Linked DNA regions of Homo sapiens: regions 2 and 3 are each linked to region 1. The links come from fine-mapping of genetic effects on gene expression. A gene starts in region 1. Each other region holds a variant in brackets. All regions are shown on one strand. Distances are from middle to middle. Region 1 holds the start of SIPA1L1 (signal induced proliferation associated 1 like 1). Region 2 has its middle 170 kb from the start of SIPA1L1. Region 3 overlaps SIPA1L1 (signal induced proliferation associated 1 like 1).

Evidence for each region. PIP is the estimated chance that this variant, and not a neighbour inherited with it, causes the effect.
Region 2: its variant is fine-mapped to the expression of SIPA1L1 in whole blood (TOPMed, PIP above 0.99).
Region 3: its variant is fine-mapped to the expression of SIPA1L1 in whole blood (TOPMed, PIP above 0.99).

The regions. Positions count from the first base shown.
Region 1 is chr14:71,313,901-71,324,904 of GRCh38, forward strand. It overlaps SIPA1L1 (signal induced proliferation associated 1 like 1), which reads left to right and starts at 6,576. Exons shown (of 24, transcript NM_001386936.1): 1 at 6,576-6,603; 2 at 7,222-7,281. It overlaps SIPA1L1-AS1 (SIPA1L1 antisense RNA 1), which reads right to left and starts at 7,948. Exons shown (of 4, transcript NR_184180.1): 1 at 7,774-7,948. RefSeq lists enhancers at 6,055-6,214, 10,902-11,004 and a silencer at 6,475-7,494.
Region 2 is chr14:71,142,842-71,153,845 of GRCh38, forward strand. No RefSeq gene overlaps it. Among named protein-coding and RNA genes, the nearest start is that of SIPA1L1, 170 kb to the right of the region's middle. The variant C/A (reference allele first, on the strand shown) is at 5,554.
Region 3 is chr14:71,551,237-71,562,240 of GRCh38, forward strand. The region is part of intron 4 of SIPA1L1 (signal induced proliferation associated 1 like 1); the gene reads left to right. Among named protein-coding and RNA genes, the nearest start is that of SNORD56B, 160 kb to the left of the region's middle. RefSeq lists enhancers at 3,937-3,996, 4,157-4,216, 4,327-4,386 and a silencer at 4,807-4,906. The variant A/G (reference allele first, on the strand shown) is at 4,938.

The DNA.
Region 1 (11,004 bases):
TGTTCTTGATCATTCAAAAAGAGGGAATTTTTATTTTTATTTTTTTTTTGCGACAGGGTCTCTGTCACCCAGGCTGGAATGCAGTGGTGCAGTCTTGGCTCACTGCAGCCTCCACCTCCTGGGCGCAAACGATCCTCCCACCTCAGCCTCCAGCTAATGTTTTTGTATTTTTAGTAGAGACGGAGTTTGGCCACGTTGCCCAGGCTGGTCTCAAACTCCTGGCTTCAAGTGATCCGCCCTCCTCAGCCTCCTGAAGTGCTGGAATTACTGGCATGAGCCATCGTGCCTGGCCAAAATGAGAGAATTTTTATACAGGGGAACTACATGGTGGATGGAAGAACTGATAAATTAACCAGGGTGATGAGGGAACCCAGAGTTTTCTTTTTTTTGTTTTTTTTTTTTGAGATTTATTCTTGTTGCCCAGGCTGGAGGGCAATGGCTCAATCTCAGCTCATCGCAACCTCTGCCTCCTGGGTTCAAGCGATTCTCCTGCCTTAGCCTCCCCAGTAGCTGGGATCACAGGCATGCACCACCACGCCTGGCTAATTTTGTATTTTTAGTAGAGATTGGGTTTCTCCACGTTGGTCTAGCTGGTGTCCGACTCCCGACCTTAGGTGATCTGCTCGCCTCGGCCTCCCAAAGTGCTGGGATTACAGGCGTGGGCCACCGTGTCCAGCTGGAAACCCACAGATTCTTAACACTAGGAAGCTACTATCACCCTCCAGCTGAAATTATATCAGAGCCTGGGGATGGTTCTCACCCAGTGGAACCTGGGGCCATGCAGGAGATGCACTTGCTACTAAAACTCTGCCTGAAGCGGACAGAGAGAGGAGCGGAATGGCTTTCACTTGTCTATTCCATCTGTCCAAATTCCTGTTATGCATCCTGATGGCTGAACCCAGCTGGAAGCCCCTGACAAGGCATCCTTGAAAACATGGCCCATGGGGTTCAGCCCTACTGCAAGGTAGAGCAGGACAAGAGAGGGCACCCAAGAGCAAGCAGGCAGATTACCAACAGTTACCTCTGTACAGACATCTAAACAGACCCAGAAAGTGCATCATGCAGATATTTGGGGAAAAAGCTCTCCAGGCAGAGGAAAGAGCAAATGCAAGGCCTGGAGGCAGTAGAGCACCAAGTATAGTCAATGAATAGCAGGAATGCCAGTGTGGCTGGGGTAGAAAGAGGGAGGGGAGAGAGGGAGGGATTGGGAGTCAAAGAATATACAGTTCCTGGGCCAGAATATGAACTGGGGCTTTTTCTCCGAGTGAGGTGAGAGGTCCTGGAAACTTTGTTAGCAGAGAAGTGACAAGATTAGACTTACTCATGCTCCACACTTTGGATCCTGTGTGTAGAACAAATTATTGGAGGGGAAATGCAGGAGTAGGGAAACCAACTAGGAGACCAGTAGAGAGACAATTGTGATAATCCAGGTGAGAAATGGCTTGAATCAGAGAGGTGGAGCTGCAGTGGGTGGAAGTGGTTGGATTCTACACATATTTTGAAGAAAGGACCATCAGAATTTGTTGATGGTTTGGATGAGAGAGAAATAGAGGAGTCAAGGATGATTCCAAGACTTTGGCTCTGAACAAAACCTCTGAACCTCTGGGAAGATATCCTTAACAGAGTTGGGGAAGACTGCTGGAGGGAAGTGTTTGTTTTTTTTTTTTTTGACAGAGTCTTGCTGTGTCGCCAGGCTGGAGTGCAGTGGCGTGATCTCGGCTCACTGCAACCTCTGTCTCCCAGGTTCAAGTGATTTTCCTGCCTCAGCCTTCTGAGTAGCTGCGACTACAGGCACGCGCCACCATGCCTAGCTAATTTTTGTATTTTTAGTAAAGATGGGGTTTCACCATGTTGGCCAGGATGGACTCGATCTCTTGACCTCATGATCCACCTACCTCAGCCTCCCAGAGGGAACCGGTTTTGAGAGGGATATCTGGAGTTCAGGAGGGCACTGGTTTTTGGGGGAATATTTGGAGCTCATCAGTTTTAAACATGTGAAATTTGAAATACCTAGTACATAATCAATTGCAGATGTTGAGTAGCAGATGGATGTACAAATCTGGAGATGGGGGAGATGACTAGCCTGGAGGTGTAAGTTTGGGAGTATTTAATGTATAGATGGTATTTAAAACTATCAGACTGGTGAGCTCACCACAGAGTGAAAAGAGACCATAAAGAGATGTCCAAAGTCTGAGTCCTGGAGCCTCCTATGTTGAGAGGTTCAAGACTAAAAAGACCAGAAAGGTAGGATAAGAACTAGGATAGACTCTTGGCTCAGAAGCCAAGGGAAGAAAACATTTCAAGAACCAGCATGGTTGACCTCTTCCCTGCTGCTGAGGGCTCCAGCCAGGTGAGCTTGGAAGTTGAGCACCAGATTTAGCAATAAGGCAGTCACTGATGCCCCTGAGAAGACCTGTTGCTGTGGAGTAGTGGGGGTGAAAGGCTGCTCAGAGTGGATTCATGGGAAGGGAAGGATAGGAATTGAAGACACCAAGCATGGAAGAGCCTTTTGAAGATTCCAGTTATAAAGTGAAGCAGGGGGAGACATAAAATTTAGGAAGCATTTTAGTTTTTACCACGGCAGATATTCCAGTATGCTTGTAAGCCCTTAGAAGTGAAGCAGTAGAGAAGGAAAATTTGCTGATTCAAGAGAGAGTGGGGACAGTTGCTGAATCAATGTCCCTGAGTTAGAGGTGATGGCACTAATGCACAGACCGAGGCTAATCTTGGCTAAGAGCACCAAGAGTTCATAAATGACAGGAAGGACAGAGGAGTATATGCAGACAGATGCAGGCAGGTTGGTAGACAAGAGTGATAGAGAGGGTATGTGTGTTCAGTTCTCTTCTGATTATTTCTATTTTACCAACAAAAGAGGGAGCAAGGCCATTAGCTAGAAGTACTAGGCAGAGGTTTGATTAAGGAGGAGAAGATGTGAAACAGTCCTTTAAAGAGGAGGGAAGAGCACAGGGAAGTATAGTAGTTTTGCTGTTAATTGATTAACAGAACGTTATAATTATTTATAACAACGTTATAAAGTAGTTGGTGTTTTAAACTTGTAATGAATACTACTATGTAAATGAGAGAAGGGGCATTTGCTAAGGAATCCAGTATTCATGTAAACAGAGTTACATCAATAAGGCTAAAATAATAACACCCTAAAATTAAAACAACATGGGATATCATTTAATCCTGAATAATTTTGAGGGCACTTTGGACCTTTGTAATGATTTAGAGTAATCTTTCTAAATATCACTTAGAATAATGCCCTGCAGATGTACAGCTACTGGAGTTCTGAATAGGCCAGTTAAATCAGATTTTAAATGTAAAACATGCAAATGTGAGTCAGTGTTTATAATATTAAAAAATACATAAAATTTGTATGGTAGGCCTCTGTGTCAAAATTCATTCTATATTTGGTATACACTATACATTAGGGTGTTTTGTTGAGTAGAGGTAAATAACCAGAGGGAAATGAATTCACCTGGGTTTTAACGAAATAAGAAGCAAATAGGGAGGGAACAACATAGCAAATGACTAGATGTTCTTATCACTAGAAAGGTTACATATCCTTTGTGTTGGAGGGCAAAGGCAAGGGGTTGAGCAGAGATGGGTAGAGGAGCCAAGACAGTGGACAGGAAGTGGACTGAGATCTAGTCTGTGCTCTTGGCAAACTCTCCATTCCGCATTTCCCTCTTCTGCTGCCTGACATCTGCTATTTTGAAACCTAGGAAGGTCAGGAAGATACAGCAGGAGTGACTGACCTAGAGAATGTGCAGTTGGAAACTAGGCTTTGGTAGCTTTCACTTTTTATCTCCTTTAGAAACACGGATGAAAGTTCTGCCATCAGTGAGGGATAAATAGTAGCCCAGGGCCTTGAAAAAGCAGTTTTAGATCCCTGGGACAATTTCTACTATTTTACTATGTCTGAAGATTAGGGAGGTTATTTTTGTAATTTGAGGCCAACACCCATCTCTTGAGCCTTATATGAAGCACTGAAGAATGTTAATAGATTTGGCTAGCATTTGGGTCAATTATTTCAAATGGCTATCTGGGAGTCATAAAACAGATGGTCCTGAAATTGTACTGCGTTGGTGGATGTAGATTGGCAGCCATCTTTTAAGGGCAAAATTATGTTAAAAGCTAAGCCAGAACAAATGAGCAACAACTGATTTATAATATTTTGCAATGTTATGAAAAATGGTTCCTTAAAACAGATTCACAGGACTGATGGTGATGTTCCATTGTGTTTCTTTGTGAAAATGTGATATTAAACACACCAGTAAATGAATCTGAGGCCCTCCGTCCTTCCCCTCCTCCCTCCCTCCCTTCCTTCCTTCCACAGATCTAGTCTTCGCTCCTTCCTTCCTTCCTTCCTTCCTTCCTTCCTTCCTTCCTTCCTTCCTTTCCTTCCTCCCTCCCTCCCTCTTTCCTTATAGTTATTTTGGGAGTATGGATGTATTTAGTTTGGGTCTTTGGTTTTAATTAGAGTATTTATTAAATAACAAGGAATCTGCTTTGAGTTAGTGTAAAAGCAAATCATGAACTATAGATTACCTTTGAAATTACTGTAACATGGTCAATATTTTTGTTGTTTTTGTAGTTGGGACAAGATAAATTTTAAAATAAAATTGTCAACATTTAAAGAAAATTGTCAACATATAGCTACTCTTTGTGAAACTGACCTACTATAAGATGAAACTTTTTTTATCATTTGCTGTAAAAGGAAGATTTGTTATTTATTGGAAAATTTTATAGGTCTAAGAGCTCTTATATTAAATTATATATATATATATATATATATATATACTCACACATACATATGTGTATATATATTTAGATGCAGGATCTCACTGTGTTGCTCAGGCTGGAGTGCAGTGGTGTGATCAGAGGTCACTGCAGCCTTTAACTCCTGGGCTCAAGTGATTCTCAAGCCTCGGCCTCCTGAATAGCTGGGACTACAGGTGCATGTCAGTATACCTAGCTAATATTTTTTATTTTTGTAGATACAGGGTCTCTCTATGTTGCCCAGGATAGTCTCAAACTCCTGGCTTCAAGCAGTCTTCCCACCTGGGCCTCCCAAAGTGCTGGGATTATGCATGTGAGCCACCATGCCGGCCAGCTATAGAATTTTAAAGCTGTAATAACCTAACATGTGGGGTACCCCCCACAGATGAAGAATCAGAGAGATTAAATAACTTCTCAAGGAGACTCAATTATTAGTGGCACAGAAAAACGTAAACCCTAGTTTGCTGACTTTGTCTAGTATCACTTAGGTTTCTAATACACAAACTTTCATTGACAGGATTTAAACTTGCAAGTGACTTACAAGTTTTGACTGCCTAGTCCTCATATGCTTAGGTTATGCTTTAGGTTTCTAGTTCTGTGGGACTGAGTTAAATAATGGTTTCCCCATGTTCATGGATAGGAATTTTAAAAATTGAGATATAATCCACATACAATGGTATCTATTTTTACTCATTCATTTTGAAATCTAAAGTTTAACTTCTATTCATAATATCCATTTTACTTAGGCAGTGAGTATATAATAACCCTCACCTCAGAAAAGTTTCTACAGTTAAAAGACACGGGCTGAGGAGAGTTCATCTTCATCCTTACTAGCATTTTGGAGTACGTATAAAGGCGTCTGCGGATGCCTAATGATTAAAAAAAAAGTTCCCCTCACCATGGTGAATAGGGTTTTTACGAGAAAAATATGGAGAAAGCAGAGATTATTACCATTGAAAAAGACAAGGTGTTAACAGAAATGGGAGGGTAGCTTGATAGAGTCCAAACTTGACTGAACTCTCTAGGTTAGGGCCAAAGGCAAGTACTGAGGACAGGCATGGACTGTTGCGTTCAACTTGTCAAAAAAGTGGCCAATATGTAGTATGGACCAAGCCTATAGAGGCGCTGAGAATACAGAGATGAATGAGCCAGTTCCTGAAGGAGCCCAGTCTGCGTGTGTTTGCGAGTTGAGAAGAGGAGGAGGGAGGCAGCATGGGGAGTGTGGGGATGGAGGAATTAGATTGAAAGAGAAGGCCGAAAAACTGAATATATAGTAGAAATTTGGGGTGCAGATATGTGCTGCCTAGAAAGGCAGAAACCTGTCCCAGAACCTCTTAATACATTAGTCTCATTTGCCAAATTTGGCCAGATATCATGACTGTGGTCCTCTCGAGATGCCCTCTTGAATCGGCTTAAAAATTATCCTTCCGCAACCACCCCTAGCTTTCCCCACCGCCAGTGCGCCGGGCAGGTTGAAAACTGCACCCACGTTTGCAGCCTCTGCTCTCCGCAGGAGACAGGAATCCAGGGCTTTGCCGTCGTCATAGCAACCAGAAGTTCCGCGGTCCCCTACCCTCCCGCGACTTTTTCCACTTCCTCCGCCTGCAGGGCCCAGCCGCCGCTTCTCTCGCGAGACTTGTGCGCCGCGCTAAGCCGCTCCGTGGTGATCTCACCCGAGACTTGGGGGAGAGGGAGGAGTGAAGGAGGGGAAGGAATGGGGCGGGAGGCGGGGCGGGGAGGGGAAGGGCGAGTGAGGCGCCGCCACTGCCGGCAACTTTGTGAGCGAGTTCAGTGCGTGCGTGAGCGAGTGAGCGAAAAGTCAGTGCAGCGCCGAGTCCCCGGCTGGAGGGTCCCCGGGGAGGGCCAGGTCTGGGCCCCAGAGGCCGCCCCCGCAGCCACTCCATTCCCTCCCGCCTCTGTGGCTCCCTCCCCATTTCCTCCCCCACCGGTCGTTGGGGCCTTCCCGCCCCCGTCCGCACTTACCTGTCCCCTCCCCCATGCGGTACGCACCTCCTCATCCCCCCCCCGGCAACCTCGCGCCCACCTTGGACCTTCGGAGCCCGGACCCCCGCACTTGCTTCCCGTACTGGCCGCCCCCTCAGTTCTTTCTGCTGGCGGGCGGGATGGGGGCGCTGAGCCTCGGGGACGGCGCGAGCGGGGGCCCGGGCGCCTAGACAATAGTTGATGCCCAAGGACGGGGCCACCTCCGCCTTCCCCTCCTCCGGGAGCTCGGCCCCCGCCGGCCCCCCGCCAGCCTGTATTCCGGGTCCCCCTCGGAGCCAGCCTCGGGAATTGGGCTGATTCCACCCCCGCCTCCCTCGGGCCCCCCTCCGCTCCGCGCTCGGCGCCCGCCTCGGGCCGGCCTCGCCGCTCTCCGCAGAGGAGGCGGCGAGTGAGCGCGCGCCGGCCGTCTACACGGTTTCTCTTTCTCCCCAGGGAGAGCGCGCGGCGGACGCGCCCGGGACGCGCGGCGGCACCGGGAGGCCGGGCCGAGCGGTAAGTGGTCCCCGCGCCCGGGTCCTGGGGGGAGCGGGGGTGCAGGACGGCTGACAGCCCCCTGCCCTGTTTCTGGCCGGGGTTGGGGTCCAGGGCCCGGAGCAGGACCCCAGGAGGCCGGTTAAAGTTTGATTTTCGATTTGGTGGCTTGCTGGTAGCTTAGCCCGGCGGGGGCGAGTCCGGCTTCACCGCGCCCGGCGCGCGCGCACGCACCCCAGAACCCGAATCTGCACAACTACTGGGCAGGCGTCTCTGCGGGAGGCCAGGAGACCCGCGTCCCGGTCCGGGCGGTTGCGTCCACCCCGCTGAGCTGGTCGCCACCTGGCGACCCTTCCCCTCCAGTCACCTGGGTGAGCGCTTTGCAGCCTGAGCTGGAGTAGGCAGGCCGAGTTGGTTGAGTTGTGGGAAATGGAGACGAACAGCTCGGTGCCCGAGGGTGGTTAATTTCCCCTTTGGGGGTCTTGGGGACATGAAATTTTGGGATGCTCTAACCTGCTTTCCGGGGAGCGAGTAAACCGCGAAAGGGCTGGGAAGGCGTGAGGGTGCCGCAAAAAGAACTTTTCCTCCTTCGCCCCATCTGTTACCAGCTTCTCTCCTGACCTTAAAGGAAATTTCCGAGGCTCTTAAATCGCTCCACGGCATTTCTAGGTGGACCAGTAATCGTGTTGGGCAGGTTGAAATTTCATCGCGGTTTGGAGAACAGAGAGACATGGGAAATGGCTCACTTCCAAGGAAGATGTTTAGCTAAATTGTTGGCATTCGTTTTCTAAGAGAAGCATTTGGGGATTGATGGCTCCTAGACTACGATTACCTTATAGATTTTATTTTTCCTGACGGGTAGTTTAGAGGCAGCATTCGCTGAAATGCATACTACCTGTGAAACGATCATGTTTCTAAACTGGAGCCAGCGATGTGATGCAAATTTCAGAATAAAGGTGTCGACTTTCATCAGGTTCCAGGTCTATCTGGATGGACTGGGATTGGCGTTTCCTCTATAAAGCAAACCTTTCATGTTGAAACTCTGAGTCAGACTCTTAAAGCCATTGTCTTTATGCTGGTACTCTGTGGGAGTTAAGTGTCAACTTTCTCCTGTTTTCTCCTATGGAGTATCCGTCCAAGGCAAAGATTCTCTGACTGAATCTTTTGGAAACGTGCAAGGTTAGATCATACTGAATTCTGCAGCCAGTTTAGTAATAATATTAGTTTTCTATATAATCCTGATTTAACGACTGTCATTTTTCTCTTCGTTTTTTGAAAGCTGCAATTAAGCTACCTTTACCAGGATTTAAAAAAGAGGATAATATGGAACAGTGGTAATAACAGTAGGTCTCAGCTAATTTATTATGGCCACCGATGTGTCCAACTATTAGATGACATCCCAGTTATTAACTACAATATTAATATTAAAACATTTTTCCCATGGAATCAATTATGCTAAAGCATTAACAATTAACAGTGCATTTAAAATGATGAGTGATTGTTTCCACATAAATGGTTAGAGGCAAAATAAGAGATTTGGGGGATGAATGGCTTTATGTCTCTGACAACTAATTTTCTTATTAATGCTTAAGTAAAGGACTCTTGAAGTTGACTGTCATTTGATTTTTCTAGTTGACTGAGTGAACAAGTTTGGTGAGTGGCTTGAGACAGTCAGTAGGTGTTGCTGTTGTTAGCTTCTCTGCAGTTCCTGCTTCTGCTCCTCGAGTTTGAAATTGCAATTCTGGTACAGTGAACTTTTAAAATCTGAAGTATCAGTCAGTGATAGTTGTGATTTCATTGGAGGAGTCTATGGCAAGGTTGACTTCAACTCCAGGTAATAATTGCAAAGCACCTCTCTGATACTTTGTACTGAGATTCATTTAACTCTTCTTTTGTCTCTGTCCTTACACTAGTATTTTCAGGCTTCTGCATTTGCTTTGCTTTTGCTTTGAAGTATGTGTGTAATTTTGGTATAGTGCCCCCATCTTCATTGTTTAGGAACTTTTAAAAAACACTTTCTAGTGAGTTTATTGAAGTCATAGATTGAAGATTGCTTGAGATTAGCAGTTTTGTAGACTTCGGGGGGATCTTGGTTGAGTTGTGATGTATATATGTTCTATCTTAAGTTGCAATCTGAATTTTTAGATAAATGACTGTTTTTCTTTTTTTAAAAATCTGTTTGAGCTGTGAAATGGGAGCATGAGGAGAGCTGAAATGGTATGAGAGTGGAATTTGATGGAAAGTTTGTCATGATTAATAATGTGACTATGTGCCTCTTATCAGTCCTTACCGTTGTATTATCATTGTTATTGGTCCGTATCAGTGCACAAATGAAGTATGAATATCCTGAAGATTTTTTGTTGACATCTCAGATTTGAGCCTTTTGGTTCACTGACCATATTAGATTTTCTCTATGGAAGACAAATAGACTCATTCCCATAATAAAGAACTAGAGCGCTGATAGAGCACACTTTTTTTTTTCCCCTTTGGATCAAATCATGGAAGTTCAAATCTGAAAATAAATTCAGAAATTTCTTTTTTTCCCCATAGCATCCCTATATTCCTAACCTTTTGAGTGGTGAGTCAAGCAATATTTATTGAATGCTGCTATCTGGCAGGTGCACTTTTGGTTTCTGTGATTACAGTGATGAGCAAGAGTGTACCTGGCCACATGGAACTTGTAGTCCAGTGGGACCATTTGTAGTAATATTTTCTGGCATGGAGTTATGGTACCCTGATGCCCTCGTAAAGGTTATACATAATAGGCAATTATTTTTGAATTTTAATATATTTTAACATTTTGAAATAATGTAACCTAGAATTTGTCCTCAGAAGGTCTGGGTTTCAAATACCTGCCCTGCCATTTTCGTTGTGAGATATTGAAAAATAATTGAACTTCTTTCTGAACTTTACTGTTGTTTCCTGCGGAGATGGGCTCAAGACTTGCTTCACAGATGAGCTACAAAAATTGATGAGAATACATGTATGAAAGTACTTTGTAAACTATAAAGTCTTATTTGTAATAGGGTTTTCTTACTTTTTGTTGGACAGATTCATGGATTGTTGGAACTAGGAGGGATTTTGACTCATTTGGCTCATGTTTCCCATTTTACGTATGAGGAAACTGAAGCCCAGAAAGTTGAAGTGATTTGTTGAAGGTTATAGAACTGGTTAATGACTAGGCAGTGATTGGAAGACAGGTGTCCATATTTAATTGCACTCGTTTCTTTTCTTTTTTTCCTACCTTAGAGCCTGTTATGTTAAAATTTTACTACTTTCTCCCCCCACTTAAGAGTTCAGTATTTATTAAATATCCAAAATGAGGAGATGCAAAACTTAAGGAAACGAACGATCTGTGGTGAGGTTGTAAAGCTATGAAAACAACATTGGTAACCGAGCTTCATAATTAAATGACAAAGTTACAGAAAAAGAAAATATGAGTTAAAGTTTCTACATAGTAGAGCCTGTAGGCTTTTTTGTTTTGTTTCATTTTTAAAGAAATCTTTATTTGCACAGAGCATAATGTACTCTTTAGCTCTTTAGAAAAGCTAAACTCAGTTTATTTTGGTTCATCTTTTTCTTCTCTTTTTAAACTCATTTCCATTTGCGGAAGAAATTAGGTGTACCATCCTTGTTTCTGGACCATGGCCAACTAAATTTTAGACCTTTTTTCTCAGCGACATGTAAGGGTAACCAGAGATTGGGGCTGGGGGTGTTAGGTGGAGAGATAAAACAGGACATAAA
Region 2 (11,004 bases), 170 kb before region 1:
TTGGTAGGCTCACTTCATGCCTTCCTTGCTGGGTTTTGGAAGATGTTGCAATTAACACAAGGAAAGAAGGCAAGCTCTTACCCCTCCTTCCCCTTCACTCAGTAGCAGCATGGTGGTTGCAGAAATAAAGCACTCAGTTGTTCTTTCTGCTTGCAATTGTTCAGATGCAAGGGGAAAAAGTAAAAACTGAAGCTTGCTATGACCTCTGTCTTAAACCATTTTGTGCAGCTATAAAAATTGCTGGGTAATTAATAAAGAACAGAAATTTATTTCTCACAGTTCTGGAGGCTGGGAAGTCCAAGATCAAGGTGCCAGCAGGCTTGGTGTCTGGAGAGGGCCACCCCCAGGATGGTACCTTACACATTACATCTTCCGGAGCAGGGGCAATCACTGTTCCTTACAGGACAGAAATGCAGAACAGAGGGAACCCACATCCACAAGCCCTTTTTAGACTGGCTTTAATCCACTCATGCTCCACCCTCATGACCTGAACACCTCCCAGTAAACCCCACCACCCAATGCTGTTGCATTGGGGATTAAGTTTCCAACACGTGAGTTTTGGAGGGAACAAAAACATTCTGACCATAGCAGCCTCTCCCCAACTTTTACAAGAAGGCTGGCATCTGACGCATTTCATAGCCTGAGTATAAGATGAGGTAACGGAGGGCCCACATCACCTACATCCTGTAAAGCCTGAGGCTCACCAAACCACACAGGGGAGTATGAACACAGAGGACACCTCCCACTGTTGTTCTCTTGTCTCCTGACTCAAACAGCCCCTTCCTTTCAGCCCAAGACATTGAGCCATCCGGGGCTTGCTGTGGTATGATACAAAATAAATATTTGGTCTTTGTCCCTGGTTCCTGACACAGCGCCTCAAAATCCTTGGAACTGATAGTCCTGTATGCTAATGAGATGAGTCATGGAGAGGCCCTAGATAGCTTCAGGATGGGGGCTGGTCACTAGAAAAATCAACCATGTGATTAGAGGATTAGAACTTTCAGCCCCACCTCCTCACTTCTGACCTTCAAGGAGAGGAAAGGGATTGGAGATAAAGTCCAATCACTAAATGACCAATGATTTCATCAATCATGCCTGCATAATTCAGACCTTGAGCAAGAAAGAGGTCAAAGCCTGAGTTACTACCTTTAGTGAGCTTAATTTCCACGTAGGAAAGTAAGAGAAGCACAGCAGCAAAGCTGTGTTTAAAATCCCCGCCCCCGCCCTCCCACTCCCTGCAAAAACACTCCTAAATGAAGTCAGATAAAAATCTCCCAAAAAAATCCTAAGTGAAATCAGATGCAGTGGCTGAAACGTAATTCCAGCTACTGGGGAGACTGAGGTGGGAGGATTGCTTAAGCCCAGGAATTTGAGGCCAGCCTGGGAAACATAGAGAGACCCTATATCTTTAAAAAATTTTGTTTTAATAAAAACAAGAATAAAACCTAAATGACAGGGATTCAGAGAACTTCTGGGTTGAGAAAAACATTGCTTTAAGAGGCCAAGGTGAGAGAATCACCTGAGGCCAGGAGTTCAGGACCAGCCTCTAAGAGACGGGGGGGTCTCACTCTATTGCCCAGGCTGGAGTGCAGTGGCACAATCTCAGCTCACTGCAGCCTTGACCTCCTGGGCTCAGGTGATCCTCCTACCTCAGCCTCCTGAGTAGCTGAGACCACAGGCATGTGCCACCATGCCCAGCTAACTTTTTTTATTTTTAGTGGAGATAAGCTTTCACTGTGTTGCCCAGACTGATCTCAAACTCCTGGTCTTAAGCAATCCTCCCACCTAAGCCTCCCAAAGTGCTGGGATTACAGGCGTGACCCACTGTGCCCAGCCCCTCAAACAAATTTTTTTTGTTTAGCCACATAGTGGCATGTGCCTGTAGTCTCAGCTACTTGGAAGGCTGAGGCCGGAGCATTGCTTGAGCCCAGGACGTCGAGGCTACAGTGAGCTACAATTTCATCACTGCACTCCAGCCTGGGTGACGGTGTGAGACCCTGTTTAAAAAATAAAAGAAAGACATTGATGCGCTTCAAGGATGGTGCATCTGAAAGACAGAGCCCCAGGACGGTGGTGGCTGCCACCCTCCCTATGCAGCTCTTCCATTTGGTTGTTCCTGAATTGTATCCTTTATAATTAATGGGCAAATGTTAATTAATACGTTTTCCTGAGTTTTATGAGCTGTGAATTATCAAAACTGAGGAAGGGGTTGTAGAAACTCCCAAATGTATAGTCAGAAGTATGGGCGGCTTCTTGGACTTGTGGCTGGCATCTGAAGCAGGGGCAGTCTGGGACGGAGCCTTGAACATGCACTGTTGGCTCTAACTCCAGGAGTTAGAACTGAATTGACTGTTGGATTCCTGTTGATGTCAGAGTCACGGGTCACGAGTGTGGAACACTCTCCACACACTTGGTATCAGAAGTGTCAGAAAAAAGACACTACACCTGTTTTCTCACCAAACAGTGGAAATGCTAAACTATAAGCTATTTCCACTGCATTTTTTTCCCCTCTTGCAATTCCACTCTTCCAGGAAGCTTGGGTGATCAGCCTAGAGTGTTACCTACACTCGCCAACAGAGTCAGCTGAGTTGACGCTCTGGGCATGACAGTTCTTTATTGTGGGGCTGTCATATGTGTGCCATTTTCAGCAGCATCTTTGACCTCTACCCACTAGATGCCGGTAGCAATAAGTCCCTGGCTGCCTCAACAAAATGTGGTCATTCCCTTACGACAAAAACTAGACCTTACAAAAAAGGGTAGTCGAGCCTGAGGCCTGAGACCTGGGTCTAGTCCAGGCTCAGCCCAAGCTCTCTCTGTGACTTTGGGCAGGGCTACCAAGCCTCTTGGTGTCCTCAACTGAACAATGGAAAAGTCAGACCAGATCAACCTGAGTTCCGTTCAGCAACAACGTGCTACACTGCTGTGTTTGCCTTACCTTCCTATGTGGAAATTAAGCCCAGTAGAGCTAGTAACTCAGGCTTTGACCTCTTTCTTGCTCTGTCAAGGCCTGAACTCCTGTCTTTTCCAATGATTTGACCCTGAGTCTCCCATTTCCTTTCACAGAATGAGGCCTGCTGGAGCCGACAGGGGATCTGTGTTGGGGATAGATGCTGCTGACAACCTGAAAAAGAATCCACCCTATGGCTCTGAAATTAACAGTGTTCAGCAGTCTTGTGGGCAGAGTGAGAGCACCTGCCCTCTGGAGCTGTCCTGGGGAGCCCCAGACCAGAGGAGTGAGGAGTGCCCTCTGTTGCAGGTGGGGGTGGCGGGACGGGAGTGTGGAGATCCAGAGTGGCCACCAGGCCATTGCTCAACCTAGTTCCTGCTCAGTCCCTCTGGGGCTGGCAGACTTCACAGTCCAGCTTGCTCTGGGGAGACCATATTCCGAAGGCGGCAGCATCCACCACCGTCCTGGGGCTCTGTCTTTCAAAGAGAAGCCTCTGTCCTTTTCAAAGACAGAACACCTGTGCTTGGCAGGCAAGAATAACATTGAGGGTGGGAAATCCCACTCTCCAAAATATTATAAAACAGAAAGTATGAAGGAATTAAAGTCCATTGAAAAAGTATCCTGAGACCGGGTGCAGTGTAGATGCCTGCAATTCTAGCACTTTGGGAGGCTGAGACAGGAGGATTGCTTGAGGCCATAAGTTTGAGACCAGCCTGGGCAACAAAAATGAGACCCAGTCTCTACAAAAAAATTTCAAAATTAGCCAAGCATGGTAGCTCGTGCTTGTAGTCCCAGCTACTCAGGAGGCTGAGGTGGGAGGATTGCTTGAGCCCAGGAGTTCAAGGTTACAGTGAGCTATGATTGTGCACTGCATTCCAGCCTGGGGAGCAGACTGAGTGGGTGGCCCTGTAGCAAAAAATAGAAAAGAAAAGAAAAGGTATCCTGGACTACCAGGAATGATGGTAATAATGATGCTAGCACTTATTAAGAATTTAATAGATGCCCTGAACTCAGCTCAGTGCTTTACATGAATTATCTCATTTAATTCAGGACACAATTGGAGATAGTTATGCTTTTTACCCCCATTTTACAGATTGGGAAACTGAAGTTACAGTGTTCTTCAAAGTCTTTCAACTAATAAGGTCTAATGATTTTATCCTGGAAGCACACATGGAAATTTTCTTGTTCTCTAGTCTTGGTAGGTAAAATTTGGGATATCTTGGCAGGTGTGACCTAAGTTATCACAAAGCATGTCCAATTATTGGGAAAGAAGATGATGTTAGTTACTGGGTGGTGGTGGTGGGAGGGGTGGTCTAGCTAATGACTGGCATTTTAAACTAGAATCATTAAGATCCATTATTAATCTTCATTTCATTCATTTTTATCTATTTATCCTTCTATTCATTAATTCAATCAATAAAAACTTATTTGTGGGCGGCAAGCCACCCAGGTGCCAAGGCAGGAGACTGAGGGTATGAGCTGTTCCAGTATAATAAAATATATAAAATAAGAATAGTTATAGTAGATATAGATCTTAGATATGATTATATATGAATAACAATCATTAATTTGTAGCAATAATTCTTTATTCCAATATTATAATAATCCTTGCTCTACAATCATAACCTAGGAAAAACCAGGCCACACAGAGATAGGAACTGAGGGGACATAGTGAGAAGTGACCAGAAGACAAGAGTGTGAGCCTTCTGTTATGCCCAGACAGGGTCACCAGAGGGCTCCTTGGTCTAGCGGTAACGCCAGCATCTGGGAAGACACCCGTTGCCAAGCGGACCGTGGTCTAGCGGTAGCATCAGTGTCAAGGAAAAACATCTGCTACTTAGCAGACTGGGAAAGGGAGTCTCCCTTTCCCTGGGGGAGTTTAGAGAAGACTCTACTCCTCCACCTCTTGTGGAGGGCCTGACATCAGTCAGGCCCGCCTGCAGTTATCCAGAGGCCTAACAGTCTCCCTGTGATGCTGTGCTTCAGTGGTCATGCTCCTAGTCCACCTTCATGTTCCATCCTGTACACCTGGCTCTGCCTTTTAGATAGCAGTAGCAAATTAGTGAAACTACTAAAAGTCTCTGATAAGCAGAAATAATGGCATAAGCTGTCTCTCTCTCTCCTCTCTCTCTCTCTGCCTCGGCTGCCAGGCAGGGAAGGGCCCCCTGTCCAGTGGACATGTGACCCACGTGACCTTACCTATCATTGGAGATGGCTCACACTCCTTACCCTGCCCCTTTGTCTTGTATCCAATAAATATCAGCGCAGCCTGGCATTTGGGGCCACTACTGATCTCTGCGTCTTGGTGGTAGTGGTCCCCCAGGTCCAGCTGTCTTTTCTTTTACCTCTTTGTCTTGTGTCTTTATTTCTACACTCTCTCGTCTCTGCACATGGGAAGAAAGCCCATCAACCCTGTGGGACTGGACCCTACACTTATTGATAACTCAGTGTATGTCATGGATTGTGCTAATGGCTAGGGATGCAAAAAAGAGTCATACTCCATCCCCATCCTCAAGACATTCCTGGTCCAGTGCTGCCGGCAATAGTCAGAGGCCAAAGTCCCATAAGAAAGTGGCCTTCTGGCCCACTGACTTCTTCCCCAGGTC[C/A]GCCTAGAAATCTAACTGGGTTCAAGTCAGGCAAAACATGTACAACTTTATGATTTCTTGTCTGATGGAAATCCCCTGGACTTTTCCCTTTTTGTATTGGATGGATTTTAGTTCTCCTGGACATGCCAAAGCGGGTACGTGGCACCCCACAGCCATGAAGCCTTGGGCCCCTGCACCTGGTGCTTAGGTTCAGGGAGCCTCAGGAAGTCTTTCTCCTGACCTGACTCTCTTGTCTTAGGACACAATCTATGGGAAACTTCTCCCACAATACAAAGCCCAAACGCAAGAGAAGGGGCCAGCCTAAACCCAGCCTGGAGACATCAGCGTAGGGATCCACTGGGCACATACTGTCCTTGAGGTTTAGCCACCTGGCAACATGCTGGGCTGCTGCCGCCCTCCTCTTCTCCCCAGCCAGCCCTCACCAGGGTCTACAGGAAGTGGTTGCTCCCATAAGCTGTGTAGGCAGATGTTCCTGTGAGTGCTTCTCTCTGTCTCAGAAAAGGGAGTCAGGGCAGGAGATGTTCCTGCCATGCCTTCCAAATGGCAGATTTCCCTGCTGTTTCAATGAGGTCTCATGGCTTTCTGGATGTCAACTCTTCTCTCCTATACTCTAAGAAGTACAGAGATGGGCCAGTACTCTAAGAATCCAGACACTATTGTAAAATTCTCCCTACTTCCATTCAGCCAGGGAGCTCCTGGTCTGTTCCTTTGAGTTCTTGTTCCCTCAGTTCTTCTCTGGAAAGGCTGCCTCTGCCTGGATAGACCAGGCCCAAGATGCGTAGATGAATCAGACACATCCCTGCCCTTGAGGGCTGTCACAGGTCTCAGTGAAGACCTACAATAGAGCAGGGAATTGAGAAGGCTTGGAGGGAGGCAGGAGTAGGGTAGGAAACAATACAAAGGGAGGGAAGAGAAGGTGATGCTGGAGGTGCACCAGGAAGGAAATGGCAGTGATATGGTTTGGATCTGTGTCCCCATCCAAACTCATGTTCAATTGTAATGCCCAGTGTGAGGCTTGATGGGAAGTGATTGGATCATGGGGGCAGAATTCTCATGAATGGTTTAGCACCATCACCCCCCCTTGGTACTGTATAGCAAGTGAGTTCTCACGAGATCTGGTTGTTTAAAAGTGTGCAGCACCTGCCCCCCGACTTCCTCCTGCTTCATCCATGTAAGACGTGTCGGCTTCCCCTTCACCTTCCGCCATGATTCTAAGTTTCCTGAGGCCTCCCCAGAAGCAGAAGCCACTGTGCTTCCTGTATAACCTGTAGAACTGTGAGCCAATGAAACCTCTTTTCTTTATAAATTATCAGTCTCAGTTATTTCTTTATAGTCATGCGAGAACGAACTAATACAGTGTTGGGAACAGGCCCCCAAATCTGGCCATAAACTGGCCCCAAAACTGGCCATAAACAAAATCTTTGCAGCACCATGACATGTTCATGATGGCCATGATGCCCACGCTGAAGGTTGTGGGTTTACCAGAATGAGAGCAAGGAACACCTGGCCAACCCAGGGCAGAAAACTGCTTAAAGGTGTTCCTGAACCACAAACAATAGCATGAGCAATCTGTGCCTTAAGGACATGTTCCTGTTGCAGGCCCATCCCTTTATTTCGGCCCATCCCTTTATTTTCTGTAAGGAACGCTTTTAGTTAATCTACAATCCATAGAAATAACGCTTATCACTGGCTTGCTGTCAATAAATATGTGGGTAAATCTCTGTTCGAGGATCTCAGCTCTGAAGGCTGTGAGACCCCTGATTTCCCACTCCACATGCTATATTTCTGTGAGTGTGTATCTTTAATTCCTCTAGCACCACTGGGTTAGGGTCCCCATGACTGAGCTGGTCTTGGCAATACAGAAAATTGTTACTGAGAAATGGGACATTGCTATAAAAATGCCTGAAAATGTGGAAGCGGATTTGGAACTGGATAATGGGCAGAGGCTGGAAGAGTGTGGAGGGCTCAGAAGAAGACAAGAAAATGAGGGAAAAATTGGAACTTCCTAGAAATTTGTTGAATGGTTGTGACCAATATGCTGATAGTCATATGGACAGTGAAGTTCAGGCTGAGGAGGTCTCAGATGGAGATGAGGAACTTATTGGGAACTGGAGCAAAGGTCACCTTTGTTATGCATTAGTAAAGAGGTTGCCTGCATTATGCCTCTGCCCTATGGATCTGTGGAACTTTGAACTGGAGAATGATGATTTATGGATCTGGCTGAATAATTTTTCTAAGCAGCAAATTGTTCAACAAGTGGTCTGGCTGCTTCTAACAACCTATGCTCATGTGCACGAGCAAAGAAATAACTTGAAGCTGGAATTTATATTTAAAAGGGAAGCAGAGCATAAAAGTTTGGAAAATTTTCAGCCTGGCCATGTGGTAGAAAAGAAAAGCCCATTTCCAAAGGAACAGTTCAAGCCAGATGCAAAAATTCGCATTACTAAAAGGAAAGCAAGAGCGAATAGCCAAGGCAATGGGGAAAGGGCCTCCAAGGCATTTCACAGACCTTCATGGCAGCCCCTTCCATCACAGGCCCGAAGGCCTAGGAGGACAGAACGGTTTGGTGTGCCAGGCCCAGGGCCCTGCCACCATGAGCGGCCTGAAGACACTGTTCCCTGCATCCTGGCTGCTTTAGCTCCAGCCTTAGCTCAAAGCAGCCCAGGTACAGCTCAGGCTGCTGCTTCAGAAGGTGCAAGCTATGAGCCTTCACAGCTTCCACATGGTCTTAAGTCTGTGGGTACTCAGAGTGCTAGAGTTGAGGTTTGGGACCCTCCACCGAGATTTCAGAGGATGTATGGAAAAGCCTGAATGTCCAGGCAAAAGCCTGCTGCAGGGGCAGAGCCCTCACTGAGAATTTCTACTAGGGCAGTGCAGAGGGGAAAGGTGGGGTTGGAGCCCCCACACAGAATCCCCACTGGGGCACTGCCTACTGGAGCTGTGAGAAGAGGGCCACCATCCTCCAGACCCCAGAATGGTAGATCCACTGACAACTTACACCATGCACCTAGAAAAGCAATGTGCACTCAACAACAGTTAATGAGAGCAGCCACAGGGGCTATTCCCTGCAAAGCCATAGGGCTGGAGCTGCCCAAGATCTTGGGAACCACTCCTTGCATCCAGTGTGCCCTGGATATGGGACATGGAGTCAAAGGAGATTATTTTGGAGCTTAAGATTTAATGACTGCCCTGCTGGGTTTCAGACTTGCATGTGGCCTGCAGCCCCTTTCTTTTGGCTTATTTCTCCCTTTTGGAATGGGAGTATTTACCCGATGCTTGTACCTTCATTGTATCTTGGGAATAACTAACTTTTTTTTTTAATTTTACAGGCTCATAGGTGGAAGGGACTAGCTTTATCTCAGATAAGACTCGGACTTTGTGCTTTTGAGTTAATGCTGGACACAGTTAAGACTTTGGGGACCATTGAGAAGGGATGATTCTGTTTTGGAATGTGAGAACATGAGATTTGGGAGGGGTCAGGGACAGAATCATATGGTTTGGATCTGTGTCCCCATCCAAATCTCATATTCAATTGTAATCCCCTACGTTGGAAGTGGAGCCTGGTGGGAGGTGATTGGATGGATCATGAGGGCAAAGTTCTCATGAATGGTTTAGCAGCATCCCCACCTTGGTACTGTATAGTGAGTGAGTTCTCATGAGATCTGGTTGTTTAAAAGTGTGTAGCACCTCCCTGCTATCTCTCTTCCTCCTGCTTAATCCACATAAAATGTGGCTGCTACCCTTTCACCTTCCGCCATGATTCTAAGTTTCCTGAGTCTTCCCCAGAAGCAGAAGCTGCTTTGCTTCCTGTTTAATTGGGTAATTTATAAAGAAAAGAGGTTTAATTGGCTCACAGCCCTGCCAATTAAACCTCTTTTCTTTATAAATTACCTAGTCTCAGGAATTTCTCTATGGCAATGTGGGAATGGGCTAATACAGGTGGCTAGAATATTCTCCAAGGGGAGGAACACCTGGGAACAGCAATGAGAACGGTGAGAAGCCTGGTGTAGCTACAGGAGGTGTAAGAAATTCACCCAGGCCGCTGGGGTTAAGCTCTGAGAGTTGTGGCTCACTGGTCCCTCTCAACTCGGACTCCCCCATCTGTAAGATGGGGATCCTCCAGATTAGGGTTGTGGTTGTGATGGTTAAGTGGGTCAGTACATGAAAAGGACAGAACAGTTCCTGGATGGGTGTAAGCACTATGCATGTGTTAGCTGGTGTTATGACTCTTATCCTCATGTCATGCCCAAAGATGTCAAGACTCAGCAATACATATTTTCTGAATGAATTTGTAAATGAGGCCTAGTTACATCAGTATAAATGTGTGTACTTCATAGACCTGCGAGCTGCAGGGGTATTGGAAAGAAGTCTTAACAATTAAAAAATAATAGGTATAATTTTTGGAGTTTCTACTATATACAAAGCATACATTTACATTTACTTCTTCTCTCTCACCAAAGATAAAAAGCTGATGATTATTCTCAATATAAAGATGAGGAAATTGAAGCTCAAAGACCTCTTCTTTTGGTCAGGATGCTGTTCTCTGCCTAGAATATAGGCTACTGATGATCATGCTACAAATTTTATTCTGAAAGGCAATTTTCTCTACTGGTTTTAGACATAATACAACTAAAGGAAAAAAGTGTTTTTGAAGATGCTTACAAGTTGGTCAGGCTTGGTAGCCATTCAATGAGAAAAGCAGAAAAAGACCTCACAGCTACCTCTGTCTTAAGAAGGAGTTCATGAGTCCAACTACCTGAGGTCAGAGCTGATGATCATAATTTATCGATGCTTCAGTGGGCCCAGGTGGACCTGGCCATGGAGGCCGATCTGCCTGTCTGGGCCCTCATGTTCCTGTTCAGTACACATACAGGTGGTGATAGGGAGGTGGAAACCCTGGCAAGGCAGATAAAAGAGCTCCGGTTTTAGAGTGAGTCAGACCTGAATTCAGAGCTGGCTCCGTCACTTACGCACTGTGCCATCTTGCACAGTTAACATTTTAGAAGTAAACTAAATGGTGATAATAATAACATGCCATAGAATTGGCATAAGGATGGAAGATAATGTATGCAAAAAATAATAAACATAGGCATAGACTCTGCCTTTCCATCATAATTACATTAATATAAAATTTTAAATTATTAGCTGCTTTTCAACTATGGGCAAACATTTGAAGCTTGATGATGTGCAGTGTTGGCAAGGCTCTGGCGAAACAGGTGCCATCATGTACTCTTAGTGGGAGTCTAAATTAGTGCAGCAGCTGTGAAAGGCAATTTGGTATTAGAAATCAAATTTTTTAATGCATATACTTTTTGATGTAGCAATTCCACTGCTCTGAATTTATCCTGTGAATATATTAATTTTAATTAGAGTATTGGATTGATTGCCATAATTGAGAACCCAAATAATAGTGGCTTAAACACAACAGAGGTATATTTCTTTCTGGACATA
Region 3 (11,004 bases), 240 kb after region 1:
AAACCTTGATGTGTGTCTAGGGTAATGAGCTCATCCTTGTTTCCTGGGACTTTCTTGGTTTTGACACTGAAGTCTCACATTCTAGGAAACCTCTTCTTCCCAGGCAAACCAGGATGGCTAGTCTCCCTATTTATAGTCCTTAAACCTGTTTCTGTCTCACTTGAAATTCCTTGGGAGAATCATCTGTCCAGTTGCTCAAGCTAAGCATTCAGCAGTTATCCCTGATTCATCTCTTTCTAAACCCATCAGTAACATATTTCTTAACCACATCTAATCCATCAGTATGCCTAGTTGGCTCTACTACCAAAAGTGTCCAACTCTGTCTGCTTCTCTGCATCTCTGCTGATCCCACCTTAATGCAAGCTGGTTTGATCTTGAGCTGCGTTATGTCATGAGACAGTGATGTGGAACCTGCAACCTTTCATGTTGCTCTTAAAGTCCAACCCCATACCAGGCCCTGCAAGCTTCCTCACAGCCCCACACCATCTGTCTTTTCTTTTCTGGGTCATTTCCCTTTCCCCTCCAGCCACACTGGCACTCTTTACCTTGGACACGCTGTTTGCTCATGTCCCAGAGTCTTTCCACTTGCTCTTCCCTCTGCCTGGAACATTCATGCTTTGTGTTACTGATTCCTTCATGACATTTAGTCATCTTATCTTAAATGACTACTTCACAAAGAGGCCTTCCTTGACCAAATCAGTTTAAAGTAGCCAGCCAGCCAGCCACTCTTGATCATATTACTATATTTTAATTTTCTGCATGGCACTTCTAGCCATCTGACGTTTATCTTGTTTATTGATTTGCTTGTTCTCACTCTCCCCTACTAGACTGTAAGCCCCTCAAGAGTGATGGCTTTGATTGCTGTACCCGCCATCCTTTCCCCAGGCTTTAGGACAGTTCACAGAACAAGGGCCAGAAAATATTATTAATTGTAGTAAAGAATAAATGTATCCTAAGCCATTTAATTAAAACTTTGAGATCTTGAAAGTTTTAGCAAGCAAGAACCAGTAAGTGGAAATTAATTGTACCATAGCTATTATTACTACCACAAAAGGTACAGAATATCATTGATATTATCTTCATTTAATAGGTTATACTGATTTTATGTTAGCTAAAATTTTAGGTTTATTTACAAATGTATTTTCCCATACCCTATTTCTTTTTTTTTTTTTTGAGACGGAGTCCCGCTCTTTAGCCCAGGCCGGATTGCAGTGGCACAATCTCGGCTCACTGCAAGCTCCGCCTCCCAGGTTCACGACATTCTCCTGCCTCAGCCTCCCGAGTAGCTGGGACTACAGGCGCCCGCCACCACGCCCGGCTAATTTTTTTTTTTGTATTTTTAGTAGAGACGGGGTTTCACCGTGTTAGCCAAGATGGTCTCGATCTCCTGACCTTGTGATCCGCCCGCCTCGGCCTCCCAGAGTGCTGGGATCCTGTTTCTTTTAAGCTGGTAATTTATTGAATGGTTGAACTTTTCTCCTGCAGCAGCTTTTGAGTTTGTATCCTTAGTATGAAAGTTCAGTCATTCCATACATCAGTCTGTGGGGACTACCGAGTGCCTTGGAGCCTTCCTTCCTTACTTTGACCTAAGGGACTGTCTTTTGGAACTTGAGTGGTTATAAATCTGCACATTTCAGTGTCGAAAGTATTTCTAAACCAGGGTCTCAACCTTAGGACTCTGGCATTTGGGGTCAGATAATTTTGTTGTGAAGGGCTGTGGAATTACATGTTCAGCTGCATCCCCGGCCTCTACCCACGAGATGCCAATAGCGCCTCCTCAGTTCAGATTGCCGATATCTCCAAATGCTGCTTAGTGTCACTCTGGAGGGCAGAGTCTCCCCTGTTGAAATCCACTCTTCTAAGCAATGAATACTTTTTCTTCTATTTCCTTTATACTGAGAGATAATAATTTTTAAAAAATCAGATAGAAATCTGGCTCAGCTTTTTTGGTGGGGTGAATGTAGCAGATTTTTAAAAGCTATTATAAGGAAAGATTGTTCATCTTCCACCATTACTAAGTTATAAGAATCTATTTTCAACTTGTATGTTTCTATAATTCCACAGTACACTTTGTGTTAGGAACCCTAAAATATTCTGGGGGAATTTGTTCTTTCAGTGTTTCTATATTTTTCGCCTGCTCCCATCACCATGGAGCTAAACACTTTGAGACATGTTAAGTTAAAAACAGTAATGACAGAAGAGGAAAAAACATTTTGCTTCTGCATTCTTTTTTCCTCTCTTCTCTTCCTCCTTACCTCAGTCAGCCAAATAGGGTATTAGTTTGAATGTTTTAATTGGATGTCAAGATAGGAAAGGCATGTTTTTCAGAGCTTATTTTTTCTTAGGAAATGCTAACAGTATAATTTGAACAGACCTGTGAATTGATATTCTGAGATAAGGTAAAATATACCAGGAATGTGTAGGGAAGGAGACTTTTTCCTTGGCCTGAACCCATTTTATAGATTTCTGTGCTTCAGAGATCCCATTGTATTGTTTAGGTAGGGCTACTCTACATCATATACAATTCTTTTTTTTTCATATAGAAAACAAATATCAGAATGTATGTAACCTAGTTTTTAGTGTAGAACTGATTGATTCATTGAATAAATGCAATTCTTGTCAGCTTTCTTAAATTGAGACCTTAGCATAGTGTTTTGTATAAAGTAACTAGAGACAGACTATTTTTCAGATTGTGGTTTGTGTTTGAAATTCATGTCCTCATCCAGGTACAGACTTTGAACTTTGGCCTATCTGAATGGAATATTCCGTTCAGTCCTTTCAAATGTAGCAAGAATGAATATAAAATTAGAGAAAAAAGTTTTCTTTCTTAATATTTACGACCTGTAGCATCTTCTGTTAGTTTGTAGGAACATGGTACTGATACGTTATTTCTGTTCAGCAAAGGTAGTTTAGAGATTTTTTTCTGTTTAAGATACAGTATTTTTTTTTCTGAACAAATTAATGTCTTGATATTGAACCTTGGTTTCACTGTGCTCAAACCTTCAAATGTTAATTTAAGGAAGTTTAGATTCCTCATTTCTTTTTAAACAGTATTACTGCTTTCTTTGCACACATGAAGCCATGATATTGAATTTAAAAGCAGATGACCTTAAAATCGTGCAACTTAAACACCACAGACTTAAAAATAAAAAATATAAAGATTTTTAAAGAAGAAAGTTAAAAAAATGTATCTGCTTTTCTGATGTAGGCTGGTGAGAAAAGATGTTCTTTTTCTGTTGCTTTCAGTCTTTAGCTCCCTGTCAGTTCTGCCCCACTGTGAAACCGAAGATGTTCTCAGCATTCTTGAGTAACACTTCCCACAGGTGACCTTCTGTATAAAGAGAGCTTGTTGTTGTTGTTGTTAACTTCTATATTGATAAGAAAAAGATAACAGTTCACAAATTACAACATCCTGTGATTTGATTCTTCATAAAATTTTTTGGTGAGGTTTTGGGAATTTCATTCTTGTTCCCCTGATCTGCTACACTTGGGCTACCACACTTTTTATAATATTTATTGCTATAAACATAGTTTGGGAGCATTTAGGTTGTTTATAGCTCCTTGCTATCCTAAATAATGCTGTGATGAACCCTTTTTTTGCACAGAATTTTGTCTTTTGAATTGTTTCCTTAAAAAATACTCAGGAATAAAATAACTGGGAAAAAAAGTATGTAAGCATTTTAAAGGCTCTCGATACATATTCCTAATTTAAAAAAAAAACAACAATTTCACTCTTCCAGTAGCTAATGAGCACATTTTATAAAAATTAATACCTCTTATTTTTCTTAAAGCATACTTAAGGGCCCTACGATTTTCAGATTGTAAATAAGCATTGGCTTCAACTTTAAGTCTCCAGCTGCATTAGCCCCTAATAAGAGAGTCAGACTGTTCTTTGAACCTTTGAAGCCAGGCATTGACTTCTCCTCTGTAGCTATGAAAGTCCTGGATGACATTTTCTTCTAAGAGAAGGCTGTTTCATCTATACTGAAAATCTGTTGTTTATTGTAGTCACCTTATCAATCATTTTAGCTAGATCTTCTGGATAACTTGCTGGTGAGCTTGCACTTTCATGTTATGGAGACAGCTTCCTTCCCGAAACCTGATGAACCAATGTCTGCTGGCTTCTAACTCTTCTTCTGAGTTTCTTCACCTCTCTCAGCCTTCATAGAATTGAAGAGAGTTAGGGCCTTGCTCTGGATTAGGCTTTGGTTTAAGAGAATGTTGTGGCTGATTTGATCTTCTTTCTCTCCAGAACACTAAAACTTTCCATCTCAGCAGTAAGGCTGTTTTGCTTTCTTATCATTTATGTGTTCACTGCAGTAGTACTTTTAATTTTCTTCAAAAACTTTTCCTTTGCATTCACAACTTGGCTAACTGGTACAATCCTAGCTTTCAGCCTCTCAACTTTCAAATGTCTTCCTCACTAAGCTTAATCATTTCTAGCTTTTGATTTAAAATGAGACACCTGTGACTCTTCCTTTCACTTTCAAGTTTCGCTTGAACTTAGAGGCCATTCTAATTTCAGTGTTGTGGTCTCAGAGACTAGAGAGCCCAAAGAGAGGGAGGCAGATGGGGAATGGCTGGTGGGTGGAGCAGTCAGAACTCAAACGACATTTGTTGATTGTTTGACATTTGTTGATTGATTGCCGTCTTCTGTGAGTGCAGTTTGTGGCATTCCCCAAAAGATTAGTAGTAACATCAAAGATCACAGATTAGAAATCACCAAAACAGATGTAATAATATGACAAAGTTTGACATATTGTGGGAATTACCAAAATGTGACACAGAGACAGGAAGTGAGCACATGCTGTTGGAAAAATAGCACTGACAGACTTGCTCAATGCAGGGTTGCCTCACACCTTCAATTTGTAAAAAAAACACCTGCAAAGTGCAATAAAGTGAAGTGCCATAAAATGAGGTGTGCCTGTATTGTATTT[A/G]TTGAACAGAAACATTTTTCAAATGTTTAACCAATTTTTTCTTTTGTGAATTGCCTACTGTTTCAGAAAAACTCTCAAACCGTGTCTTTCCTCTGCTTTCATACCACCATGACAATCATCAACACAGAAAACACTTCTGTGACAAAAGCTGTGGGTTTTTTTCTCCACATGCCAAACAGCGTACACTGGCTGGATGTTCTCAATTCAGTTCCAACACTATCCACCCTAAGATAGTGTCAGATTCCACAGGTTGGGGGCTCAGTCCCCAAGACTGCCCCTTACATCTTTGGACATCATTGGTAAATCCAGGCCTCCAGACTTCTGACTGACCAACTTTAAGTTGGTGTTCCCACAACCCCATGTTTGGGTTTAATTAATTTGCTGGAGCAGCTTACAGAACTCAGGGAAACATGTTTACTGATTTATTTAAAAGGATATTACAAAGGATTCAGATGAAGCGTTGTGTAGGGCAAGGTATCAGGGAAGGAGCACGGAGCTTCCGTGCCCTCCTTTGGCGTGCCACCTTCCAAGAACTTCTACATGTTCACCTCTCCAGAAGCTCTTCAAACCTGGTCCTTTGGGTTTTTATACAAGGAGGTTTTATTACATGGCCTGGTTGACAACCGTGTAGAAATGTGATTGGACAAAAAGCACATTATCTAAATCCAGCAAGGCCTGTCTATTCAGACTTTTCTTGGCCTTTCTGTGTAGCTTTCCTTCCCGTAGGATATGGAGCAGGACTCTCTGGAATGAGTGTCTTTTGATCCACAATCAGATTAGAGCCCTGCCTTGGGCAGGTGAAAGGACAGGAGGTCAGAGAGAGAGAGATTCTGTTTCCTGAGGCCTAAAGTACCCCAGCATTATAACAAGGACTGTGGGAGTTAGGAGCTAGGAACTGTGGACAAAAACCAATATAGCTATCATAACACCATACCCATTAATACTTCTTTTCCCATTTTTCTTTTGGAATCTTAGTATTTTATCTTCCTTCACAAATCTTTGCATATATTCAGTGTATTCAGTCTGCGTTGTATTTATGGTATTTTTTAAACTAGTATTTGGTTTGCCTTTTAATGTACAGATGTTTAAAAGTTTCATGTACCCAAATCTGTCAATGTTTTCTTTTGTGATTTCTTTCATTAGTTTTGCTCATGGAAAATGTTTCCCCATTAGATATCACATTTTTTCCCTGATATTTTATTAATTTCAAACTAAGTCCTTACCACCCATTAATTTCATAAGAAAAGAAATCCACTATTTGAGAATTAGGAGCACTTTGCTGCTGATCATGGTTACTACAGGTTGTATTTTTGTAGTTCTCTGCACAAAGGGGCCACTTGCACTAATTGTTAACTTTTGGCTTTGATGTGGTACTTGAGATGTGAGTGCCTGTTTAATTCTGTGTTAATCTGTGGTTCTGTTACATTTGGATCGTTGCGAAAGTACCTTATTGAATACAAATATGAAAATGAACAAAGTAAAATAAAATTAAACTAGTCATGATTGACTCCTATGTGAGTTCATACTTTAAGAGGCCCAGAAATTGTGACTCTTTTCAGATGTAACTGATATAAAAAAACCTACCTTACTTTCCTGTGATAGTTATGGATTGTAGCATTAGGCTCAAGTTGACTGCCAACATAGTTTATGGTGATAACTGCTATATTTCTAATTTGTACAAGTTCAATTTTTTAGAAATATATAAATCCATTGAAGTGAAAATGCTTCCAATTTGCTGGAAAATGAATATTGCTAACTTACATCGTAGGTAATTATTAAGTGTTGGTTTGTGATACTTAAATCAGTTGTCTCATGATTTTTACACCAAAAACTCACTTTTAGAAGTAATATTCTTGTTGGCATTCCAGGTGACATAGGTAAAAAAATATTTTATTGAATTTAAAGCCTAAGTATGTAGTGATACTCTTACATCATATGTTTGTTTATTGTCTGTCTCTCAAAGTAAATATAAACATTTTTAGGGCAGTATTTTCAGCATGTAGAATGATGCCTCAAATATTTATGGAATAATGGATATTTGTTGAGTGAATATCAGGGCACGGACTTAAAATTATAGGAAAAAGAAATACTTCTGCTTGAGTACCTAGAATTTACCAGCCATTGTATGAGATGTTTGGTGATCTCATGACTATATAGAGAGCATTGTTTTTCTAAAGATGAACCTGGGTTTACCTTTGCCATTAATTTTCTGGATAACATCAAGAGTGATAGGTTTTTAGGAGACAGTAGGAAACTACAGACAGTGGAGAGCTCCATCATGTTTCAAGGTAGATTTCTCTCCTGGGAGAAGGTTACTAAAGAGCCTTAGCTAACCACTCTCTCTGTTTTCACTTGGCTGTAACCAGAACTGTAATCAGAAATGGCGTGGAAGGCTGGTGAAAGCCGTGGTTGCTGTTGAACGGGCATATGTGCACTTAGGTAGTTTGCTGATGTAGGTTTAGTTTGTGAATCTAGATAATCTGGGAGTCTCTTTTTAATTTCCTGAAGCATTTTGTTTTTGTTTTTTTAGAGACAGGATTTGCTCTGTCACCCAGGCTGAAGTACAGTGGCACAGTCATGGCTCACTATATACTCAAACCTCCAGGGTCAACCAAGTCTCCTACCTGAGCCTCCTAAATAGCTGAGACTACAGGTGCACGCCGCTACACTTGGCTAAGTTTCTTATTTTTTGTAGAGACACGGTCTTGCTGTATTGCCAAGGCTGATCTCAAGCTCCTGGCCTCAAGTGATCCTCCTGCATTGACCTCCCAAAATGTTGGGATTACTGGTGTAAGCCAGGGCACTTGGCCTTGCCGAAGCATTTTGATGCATGCAAACTAGCAGCAGATGTCAACATTTTCATTTTCTACTCAATCGTAATTTCAGCTTTACTTTTTTTTTTTTTTTTCTTGAGATGGAGTCACACTCTTATCTCCCAGGCTGGAGTGCAGTGGCGCTATCTCAGCTCATTGCAACCTCCGCCTCCCTGGTTCAAGCGATTCTACTACCTCAGCCTCCCGAGTACCTGGGATTACAGGCATGCGCCACCAGACCCAGCTAATTTTTGTATTTTTAGTAGAGAGGTGGTTTCGCCATGTTGGCCAGGCTGGTCTTGAACTCCTGACCTCAGGTGATCTGCCCGCCTCGGCCTCCCAAAGTGCTGAGATTATAGTCTTGAACCACTGTGCCCAGCCTCAGCTTTACTTTTTGTAGAGAAAGGCATCAAAAGGAAGTTTTTCCAACTTTTCTTAATAATAGGTACTTTTTATAGATTTTCCCCTGCCCAGTGGCATTGGACTCTCCCAGAAAAATTTTATGCCAGGATTGTTGTAAAATATTGTCAAGCATTCATGATTTTATCATTTATGGTGGTAAGGGTCTCATAGAGATGTTATGTGAAACACTGTAACATTTTCTTTACCTGCCAAATAAGTATAGAGTAATAAAAAGAACAATTGTTTTTAAAGCCAAAAGATTTTGACCTGGTTCCTGATTTATCATGAGTATGCTTTTAACCTGATCTATGGTTGTGAACAGAATAAAAACTTTTCTGCATTTTTTCTACGAAATTAAAATGTAATTCTTAAAATTTCCAAAAGCATGTTTTCTAACTATTGAAAAAATAAGTTTATTCCCATTCAAAGTAGAATTATATAAACTTTTTTTTTTTTGTATAAAGTTTCACTTCATGTTACTGAACTGGACTTGACATGGAAAACTTGTCCTTGAATAATCATTGAAAAATAGGCTGGGGGAGTGAGACTTTTTCATTAACACACTAAATTTATGCTCCATATGTAAGATATTTGTATATTTTTTAGTGGACTCTGATTATTGTAACTGAATTTAAAGATGCATCTTAAGACCCTACTGTAATCTACCTACCATTAATGTGTTCATTCGTTTCTTCATTCTACTTGCAAACTTCTGTTTAAACTTTATCTTTGATCAAAATATTGTCTACTTTTAGTAAAAATTAAATTGTTAAGTATTTGTGAATAAAATTCATATTTACCTATTCAGATTTACTTGTGTCAGGAATGCAGTCATCTGCAAGCATTAGAAAACCTCTCTAGTAGCATAAGCAAAAGGAAATTAATTCTCCCACATAAAAAGTAGCCCCAGAAATCAACAGTCCAGGGCTGTTACACATGTTCAGTGATGCCACAAGAGACCCTGGAGCTTTTTCCTTGATTGTGTTGGTATCTTTCCTCATGCTAGTCTTATGAATGATAAGATGGCTGTTGCTCTTCTAGGTACCATGTACTCCAGGAGGAAGAAGGGGGAGTAAGAAGGTAGCAGGTAAAGGCTAGGTGAATCAGTCCCTTTTTATCAGGAAAGCTAAAGAGTGTTGCAGGCTTCTGTTTACTTTTCATTAGTCCTGATTTAGGACTAATCTGTTCCTGACTAGTTACCCCTAAACCAGTCCATGGCCACAGGGCAAAAGAGTCCATTAGAAAATTTAGAAAATTCCTGATGTATCTTCTAGGACACACCAAGGTGTCCCACACCCACCTGAACAACTTGAGAATCTGTTGTTAGTAAAGAATTGGGAGAACAGTATGGGTTAGTTAATGGACTGTGTCTTCCATACCTGCTGGAGTGAGGACAGTATGTATTAGATAAACTTAGAAGCCCTGTGCATTTTGACTTCTTGATTCTTGGTCTTCTGGAATAAATTAGGGATTTTTTTTCAGGTTCTTCAGATATTCTTCTGTAGTCATACATATCCTGTCATTGTAGGGGATGATTTAGATATTAGGATAGCAAATACTGTGTTTTAGAGACTTCCTTGTTATTAAGTATATGATGAAATGGGAATTGAGTCATAACACTCTAAAATTGAAATTTGAAAGCTATTTAATGAATTTATGCTTTCTAAAAAGAGTTCTTTTTAGTAGCTCTCTAGAAGATTAATTTTGTTTTATTTGTAATTAAAATGGCTTGAAGATTCATTTTCAAAAAACATGGGCAATGATCATCATATATATACATTTATATTCCACTTTTTAGGCTTACCATATCATAAAATTTTTCCCATGTAGTATAGTACTTTAAAAATTGCTTTGGTGTCACAATGTACTTAATCATTTCCCAGTTATACATTTAGTTCCATTTTGTGCTGCCATTAGCAATGCTATAATTCCATCTTTATATAGGTTATTTTTAATGTTGTATATTACTTTCTTTAGATTCTTCATATTTTAATGTCTTTTGAAACATTTAGCTGATCGCAATCCAATAGCATTGTACAATCCAATAGCATTAATTCGCAGTGCCCACCAGCAAGATATAAAAATAAAAGTTTTTCTGTCAATTTCCCCAGCATTGATTATTGGCAATTAAAAATTTTTTTGTTAATTAACAAGTGAAGAATTACTTTGAATTTCTTTTATGGTAGTAAGGCTAAATATTTTCTTTCTTTTTGAGATGGAGTTTCATTCACTCTTGTTGCCCAGGCTGGAGTGCAATGGCATGGTCTCGGCTCACTGCAAACTCCTCCTCCTGGGTTCAAGCCATTCTCCTGCCTCAGCCTCCCAAGTAGCTGGGATTACAGGCATGTGCCACCACGCCCAGCTAATTTTGTATTTTTAGTAGAGACGGAGTTTCACCATGTTGGTCAGGCTGGTCTCAAATTCCTGATCTCAGGTGATCTGCCTGCCTCAGCCTCCCAAAGTGCTGGGATTACTGGCGTGAGCCACCATGCCCGGCCCAGGCTAAATATTTCCTACTTATTTTTTTTCCTCTTGTAAATGGCATTCTTCTGTTCTTGATTAGTCTGTTACTTTCTTAAGTAACACAGTATATTTTTTCACGTTGTAAAATGATACATTCTTGGTGTAGAATATTTGTTAGCCATAGACGTCACCTCACAAAGATCTATTAATATTTTTTCTGAACAATTTGTGTAAACTTTTAATGTAAGTAATTATATATTTTATTCATAATATATATACTATATTGTCTCAATCTATGTGCCTGATAGTGCATTAGACTCTTGGGGATACTATGGTCAGTATAACAAGTATCATATCTATGACATCAGAAAAAAAATGATACTTTTGTT